Linked DNA regions of Homo sapiens: region 2 is linked to region 1. Evidence: fine-mapped expression QTL. Tissue or cell type: nasal epithelium. Region 1 holds a variant in brackets; the other region holds the start of a gene. All regions are shown on one strand. Distances are from middle to middle.

Evidence for each region. PIP is the estimated chance that this variant, and not a neighbour inherited with it, causes the effect.
Region 2: IL13RA1 starts here. The variant in region 1 is fine-mapped to the expression of IL13RA1 in nasal epithelium (TOPMed, PIP above 0.99).

What each region holds. Positions count from the first base shown.
Region 1 is chrX:118,675,118-118,679,117 of GRCh38, forward strand. It overlaps DOCK11 (dedicator of cytokinesis 11), which reads left to right. Exons shown (of 53, transcript NM_144658.4): 47 at 819-932; 48 at 1,474-1,620. Among named protein-coding and RNA genes, the nearest start is that of IL13RA1, 50 kb to the right of the region's middle. The variant C/T (reference allele first, on the strand shown) is at 2,366.
Region 2 is chrX:118,725,291-118,729,638 of GRCh38, forward strand. IL13RA1 (interleukin 13 receptor subunit alpha 1) reads left to right here and starts at 2,316. Exons shown (of 11, transcript NM_001560.3): 1 at 2,316-2,436. The coding sequence starts at 2,349. RefSeq lists a silencer at 1,925-2,354.

The sequences.
Region 1 (4,000 bases):
AGCTCGTCTTTCACATTTTTGATAATGTTCTTTGCACAACGTGCTCTCTTTTTCTGGAAGTGCGGAAAAACATATCCTTTGGAAATATCTGTGAACTTGCATAAAAGCAGTCCTCACTGCAGCTTACACCATTGCTTATTTTTATATTTGCATTTTATTTTCCTTTTTAAATACATGGATTGTTTATTCTCATAGCTCTCTACCTGAGGGCTCAAGCAAAGCATTTGGCTGCCCTTTCAGTTAAAAATATTCCGATCCTGTAGAAAATAGTAGTTGATAATACAGTATTTCAAAATTTAAAATTTCCATTGAGATGTGAATGAAATGAAGCATGATATTAAGAAATACATTGTCATTGAGGAACAGAAAACCACATACCGCGTGTTCTCACTCAAGTGGGAGCTGAACAATGAGAACCCATGGACACAGAGAGGGGAACAACTCACACAGGGCTTGTTGTGGGGTGGGGGGTGAGGGGAGGGAACTTAGAGGATGGGCCAATAGGTGCAGCAAACCACGATGACACACATCTATCTATGTAACAAACCTGCATATTCTGCACATGTATCCCCCCTTTTTTTTTTAGAAGAAATTTCTTTTAAAAAGAAATACAGTGTTATTTTACCATTTTAAGTTCTACCCTTAGACCTAAAGTTGTTGAGGACTTTGATTGTTACAAAGGGAGATGAGTATGAATGGCCCCACCAAGACCATTTTGAAAAGAATATACTGGTGCTTTTTATTTTTGTACATTCATCTTGAAGACATTTAGTAATTAAACAAAAAACAAAGCTGATTTGTATATTTTTATTTTTCAGAAACTTACTCAAGTTTATAGAACTCTTCATGGAGCTTACACAAAAATTCTGGAAGTTATGCATACAAAAAAGAGACTTTTAGGCACTTTCTTCAGAGTTGCCTTTTATGGCCAAGTAAGTGTACTTGAATCCATAAAGTTTTCCTTTTTAAACATTCACCTTTGAATTACTAGTTTACTATAGCAGCTAGGAGTCTATCCAGATAGAGTGCCTATTACAACAGCAGGGAGCCTCTTTTGTATGTATAAAGTTCACTTTGGTTCTCATATCTAAACCCTTCAGGTCAGAATACAACAGAAAAGGTTTTGATTTCTGTCAGTTTCATTTTCTGTTAAGCTTTTTAAAGTACATATTAAATATATAGTAGTTAAAACTTTTAAATAAAAAACAGGTAAGTGTACAGGGAAGGAAAAAACCTAGTTTGGAAATCTTCCTCAGGCCATATGTTTATGTGATTATAAATTTGAAAATTACCAGGAATTTAAAAATTCTCATGTATTTGAAATTAAAAGGGTAAATACAAGCATGGGACTTTTAGTAATATTATTCAAAATTTATTTCAAATATATTATTACTAGTTATTTAGTAGATTTTCTTTAAATGTTGTGTTTGCTCATATTATTTATAAGTTATTATTTGTTTAACTTTATAATAGTCTTTTTTTGAAGAAGAAGATGGAAAGGAGTACATCTATAAAGAACCAAAGCTCACTGGCCTCTCAGAAATTTCCTTGAGACTTGTTAAACTTTATGGTGAAAAGTTTGGTACGGAGAATGTCAAAATAATTCAGGATTCAGACAAGGTAACACATACCCTACATGTTGAAATCATTATTTGTTAGTTCCAGGCATTGTACATTGCTCCTGACTTTTTCCTTTTTTAACTGGTAGAGAAGCATGAAAACAGAGCTTTCCAGATAATAAAAGAAAGAACAGGGGCTTTGGAGTCAGAGATACCAAGCTTCAAATCTCTACTCTCTGCCACTCACTAGCTGTGTGACCATGGGGAAGGTACTTAACTCTCTGTGCTTCATCGTTCTTAGTAATAAAATGGAGATAATAATAGTAGTATTTTCCTCATGAGGTTGTTGTATGGATTAAATGAGTTAATATATGGAAAGTATAATCACTTTCCTGGTACATAAAAAGCATTCACTAATAATAGCAAGCTAGCATGCTCACTAAAGGTTAGATATTATTGTAAATGCTATTGTACATCATGATTCTCCGTTACATCATGATTAAAATCACCTTGGGGCACACATTTTATTCTAAGATATCCTTAGTTCAGTAATAGTGACTGTAGTTAACATTTGCAATGAAATAGGTTTAGGAGAGATCCTTGAGCCTTGCTCTAAAGGTTATCCATCCCACTAGGCCCTGCCAAGGCATAGTGAGAAGGCTTATATTATAGCAAGAGAGGCCCTTTCCTAGGAAATGCATAGTTCCCTATAGACAGGATTTGGGGGAAGCACTGTAGGAATGCCTGACTGTCCTTAGTTGCCTTGGGTGTGCCCAGACTTAGAGCTGATTTTTAAGGGTAGGAAG[C/T]TCATATAAAGTTCAAGATTTGTATCCACAGTGATATTTACTGAGTGACTATGATATGCGCAGTGCTATGCAGAACACTTAAAAGCTAGCAGGAAGCATTACCAGAGTGAAAAAGCCCATGGCTATTGTAAAGACACTTCATTGTCTACCACGAAAATAATCTCTTCACTTTGTATACTTACATATATCTCTTGGAGATGACTTTATCTTAAACACATGCCTAAGACATTTAAAAATAGATTTGGTGGTAGTTTCAACGTAATATATGGCAAACACTCTCTACTTCTTTCCTTATCAGTTTCACTATTTTGTGTTGTTTCGTTGAATTGAGACAACAGAAGATTTTCTCCCCTTGCAGCCAGATAGTGTAAGACTTGTTCCCACAATATTGATTACTGTATAAATGGAAAGGTAATGAAAAGTCAGACTTTCTGTGCAACATGCAGTTTTCTACCTTATTCTGCCTCTGAAAACTGGGCCAAAGAATGCTAGCGACAAACCACTACAGGTGGCTGGACTCCTGATGTTTGTTATGTATCATATTTTAGTAGTTCCCCACAGGCAACAGACATAATAAGCAGTTCTGGCTTTTAAAATATATTTATTGTTTTCTCAGTTTGTGAAAATAAAAATTAAAAATATTCTTTTCCCTTGCCAAAGAACAAAATCTGCTTAAGGGCAAAGGCAATTTGAAGAGGAGTTTGGCAATATCTTCCAATATTTTAAATGTATGTGTCCTTGGACCCAACAATTTCACATTTAACATTTTATCTTGTAGATGTACACATATAAATGTATATGTTTAAAGTTGTTCACTGCCACAAAATTTATATAGCAAAAACCTGGAAGCAGTCTAAATGTCCATATGGTTAAAGAAATGGCGGTATTACCCATATAATGGATATAACCACCTAGACATTAAAAAGCATGAGAGATTTGTAAGTGTCCATATGAATCTATCAAGATGTATATTTTTTTCTTTTCTTTTTATTTTATTTTATTTTTTTTTAGACAGAGTCTTGCTCTGTCACCCAGGCTGGAGTGCATTGGTGCCATCTTGGCTTACTGCAACCTCCGCCTCCTGGGTTTAAGCAATTCTCCCACCTCAGCCTCCCTAATAGCTGGGATTACAGTCGCTCACCACCACACCTGGCTAATTTTTGTATTTTTAGTAGAGCTGGGGTTCCACCATGTTGGCCAGGATGGTCTCGAACTCCTAACCTCAAGTGATCCACCCACCTCAGCCTCCCAAAGTGCTGGGATTACAGGCCTGAGCCACCACGCCTGGCCGCTTTTAATTTTTTTCGAGACAGGGTCTGGCTCTGTCGCCCAGGCTGGAGTGCTGTGGCACGATCACAGCTCACGGCAGCCTTGACCTCCTGTGCTCAAGCGATCCTCCCACCTCAGCCTCTTGAGTAGCTGGGACTACAGGTGTGCACCACCACACCTGGCTTATTTTTGTTTCTTGTGGGGTTTTTGTGTGTGTGTGTGTGGAGACGGGGTCTCACTATGTTGCCCAGGCTGGTCTCAAACTCCTGGGTTCAAGCAATCCTCCTGTCTTAGCCTCCTGAATAGGTGGGACTACAGGTGTGTTACCACCATACCCCAGCTAATTTTTTTATGTTTCTTAGAGAC
Region 2 (4,348 bases), 50 kb after region 1:
GGAACTATCTTGGTGAAAAGAAATCAGGTCTCTCCCCTCTCCACACTGCCGTTTGTTTTTTTTCCTCACGATGTTCAGATTCTCAGGGCTTTTCTGGAAGCTCATGACAAGCTGCAATCCCTATTTTTCTAATCATTTGCTACCATTACTGTTTTATTAAGCGCTTGGTCAATCTATGCCAAGCAGTGCCCATGATGGCACTCAGCCAGTCCCCAGGGGCTCCTGTTCCAACTAAAGACTCCTTAAAAGGCAGATGACATAACCATTTTGGAAACGTTATTATAAACTTATTGTATAATGTTTATAGCAAATGTCAACAAGTGTATATGTCCGTGGTGGTGGAGGAAAGGCCTTGGGATACACAGTGGCTGACCTATTTGTGGGAGGGATTTAGAAATAATGATACTATCTCTCAGTTCTACAGGCCTTGATACTTTACAAACTGTTTTCATAAACATTATTTTGTTCGATAACACATGCAAGCCAGGATTTATTTTTTTTTTTTTTGAGAACGGGGTCTCACTCTGTTACAGACCCAGGCTGGTTTTGAACTCCTGGGCTCAGGTGATCCTTCCACCTCAGCCTCCAGAATAGCTGGGATTACAGGTGCATGCCACCATGCCTGGATTCTGGAATTTATTCTGAACCGTTAGCCAAAAGAATCAACATCCTGAGATTCAGCACAGGCAGGCCCTCCTCCTGGAAGCTTCCCTTGCTCCTTCCCTCCCAAAAGGTACCCTTTTTGTATCCCATAATTCCTTGTTCTTGCCCTTATCATTGCCCCTCAGACTGACTGCAGCTTTCTGTTAGCAGAGCTTGCTTTTGGTGAGTGTCTTCAACAGTTCCTGGAACAATTTCATAAATATTTATTGAGTTTGAGAGCCTTAATTCCAAGAGTGGAACCTTTGTTGTGAATAGGTTAAACAACCCTGTGCCCTTTGGGTGGGGTCTAGACTAGGTATATTATCAGCATTTTTATTGCTATACTTTTTGTAACTGTTTTCAGGTATATGCATTGGCTTAATTCGGCCAAAATACACCTCATTATGGGTCTCATCATCCACCTAGACATGATTCTTTTTTGGGAGAAGGTGATAGAATAATGTCCCCCTCCCATGATTCCATATCGTGATCCCCAACACCTGTGAATATGTTAACTTACATAGCAAAAATGACTTTTCAGTTATGATTAAATCAAGGATTTTGAGATGGGGAGATTATTATGAATTATCTGGTGGACCTAATCTAATCACAAGGGTATTTATAAGGGAAAAGGGGAAGTAAGAGGGTCAGAGTCAGATACGACAAGGGAAGCAGAGGTCTGAGTAGTTCCGCAACAAGCCAAGGAATGTGGGTAGCCTCTAGAAGCTGGAAAAGTCAAAGACACAGATTCTCCCCTAGAATATCCAGAAGGAATACATCTCTGCCCACACCTTGATTTAAGCTCAGTGTCACTTCTGACCTCCAGAACTGTAATAAAATAAAACTGTTAAATCACTAAATTTGTGGTCATTTTTGACAGCAGCAACAGGAAACGCCTAAGGACTCTTGTTTTCCTTCCTCCCAGCCTCACTGACCCTCATAGGCGCCCAAGTATCAATGTGTATTCTTCCGATTCACCTCCCATCCCTTTGAAAAATATGTAGAAAGTTTGTCGTGTGCTTTAAAAAATGCACGTATGGTATCCTCCCTCATGTTTGGAATGTTCCTTTTAAAATCAACATTATGTATTGCCAGCTTTCAAATATGCCCTTTGTCCTTTTCACAAAGCACAGTACTGCCAGTGTCCCCAACTCCACCCAGTGAAGTAGGGCTGGTATTACTAACCCTGGAGTCAGCGCTAGCAAACAAGGGCTCAGAGGTCAAGGGCTGGAAGCCAGGTCTCCAGACTCCCAGGCCAAGGCTCTTTTCCGCAGATGACTCTGTCCTGGTGTCCAGCAGGGCACAGCCCCTAGCACCTCCGAGGCCCCGCAAGTGTGCTGGCAGCGGCGACGCCGGCTCCGCCACGCGGAGGGAGGAGGCCCAGGCAGCGCCCGGAGTGGGCGGCGACGTGGTGGAAGAAGTTTTGTTCGGTCAGAGACCGGACGCGGGAGCTGCGGGTGGGCCAGGTGTCCAGCCTTGGGAGCCGTAGGAGCCGCCAGAGCCGCCAGAGCCGCCGGCGCCCCGCCCCGCCTCCTCCGGCCGCTCTCGCCGGCTCAGGTTACCTGAGGCCGGTGGGCGGGGCGGCCCTTCCCGTCTGCGCCGGCCCCCAGCCTCCAGGGCGGCGGAGCCGGGAAGTGGAAGAGGGAGCGAAGGAGGCGGGGACTGCCAAGGCTCCAGCCCGGCCGGGCTCCGAGGCGAGAGGCTGCATGGAGTGGCCGGCGCGGCTCTGCGGGCTGTGGGCGCTGCTGCTCTGCGCCGGCGGCGGGGGCGGGGGCGGGGGCGCCGCGCCTACGGGTGAGTGCGACCCTCGGGGCCCGAGGGGCGGCCGGAGGGCTGAGGGCGGTGAGGGTCACGGCTGAAAGGCCCCGGAGGTCAACGCCGGGCGGAGGGCCGAAGCTGGGGTGGGTGCTGGGGGCTGCCCTCGCGAGGCCCCGCGCTCGGCGGCTGCGGCTTCCCGCGCGGGATCTCTGGGGCCCGGTACTGGGGCCGGTTCGAGGTGGGACCCGGGAGCTGCGGGGTTTTCCCGAACTCCGGGTGCGGCGGAGGTGGCGGCAGCGAAGTAAGAGGGCTGCGACTTGTAGTGGGAAGAGCCCAGGAGGCTGGCGTCCAGGCGTGCGGGGGCGGGGGGCCCGAAACATGCCCACGGCGTCAGAGGGCCGTGGGTCAGCGCCCGGAATGTCGCCTGTGAGCCCGGGAGGAAATGAGGCGCCAGAGCCGGCGGGGACCACGACCGAAGTCCAGGCGAGCTGAGAACGCGCCGGGGCTCTTTGCCCGAGGCCGCGCCAATCCTCACTGTCTAAGGGTGGCTCTTGCGAGTGGAAGTTGAAGGGAACCTCTAAACATCTCAGTCCTTGTTGAAAAAGGACGTGACGCTCATGACCTCCTCTGGCGTCGAAGAAATCCTTTGGGAAATCCAGAATAGCATCCCGGCAGATGCTCCCCCCACCCCACTCTCTTTAATAAACCTTATATTTTAGGGTAATTGTAGATTTATGGAAAAGTTGCAAAGATACTTCAGAGAGTTGTGTATATCCCTCACCCTGTTTGGTAACTTCTAGTTAATCAACCTGGCAGTTGTGAAAAATTGGGAGTTAATGACTTCCTTAGGAGCAGCTCCTGGAAGGAATGGCCTTCTGGACGTTTTTGGTGACAATGAAAGCCCCAAACTGTATAGGTTTTATTATCACATTGACACAAACACTTATATATGCTTATTGCATTTTTACCAATGTGCTTTGAAATCCAAGTTGAAATGTTGATTAGGAAACCTTAATGCCCTCTATGGATTCAGTCAATAAAATACATGCTGCCAGGCAGTGTTTAGGGGCTGAGGATGCAGCAGTGAGCAAAACAGATGAGGTGCCTGCCCTCAGACATATCGGGGGGTGGGGGTAAAATATATGATATGTCTGAGGGTGTTAAGTAGAGAAAAACAGAGCAGGTGGGAAGGGGTTTGCCATTGTAAAAAGGGTGGATCGAGAAGAAAACAAATGTTGCTGAAAGGTGGCATTTGAGTAGAGACCTGAGGGAGACTTGAAGCTTGTCAGTCAATAATTATTCAGGTGTCTGCCTTATTTAGTACTGAGTCAGGCCCTCTAGGTTGACTTAGAACCTGAGAGTGTATAGCAAAATTCTTGCCCCAAAAGGGCCTCTAGTTTAGTTGGGTACACCTGATTTCCGTAATCATATGGGGACATTGCAGTCCAGAGAAGGGAAGGAACTTGTCTAAAGTTACCCGTCTCATTAGTCTCCTGATTTTCACAGTGCCACTCCAGCACCCTCCCTCCTACAGACTCACTCCCACACACACCTGAAACAACAGCTGGCCATCTAGAGAATACTGGCAACTCCCAACTTCATCAGTCCTGTCACAATGGTTTGTCGTTAGCTTGCTTATTTAGAAAACAAACTTCTTTCCCCATTAAAAGTATTGATAGAATTGCATTGAGGTATGGTGGGAAAAAATTAGATGTTTCCAGTGAGACTTGAGTTTTAGTGGTTCTGATATTTACCACCTGTGGGACTCTGGGCTGGTCATTTCCTCTCTTTTGTGCTGCAGTTAGTTTTCTCATCTGTGAAATGAGGAGGTTGAACTGCATAAATTCTAAGAGCTCCTCCAGCTCTAATCCTCAGAGTGTTTATAAAAGTGATTAGATTACTAGCTTAGTTTAACCTGTCCCACTCAATGGCCCACATTGTGGCATGT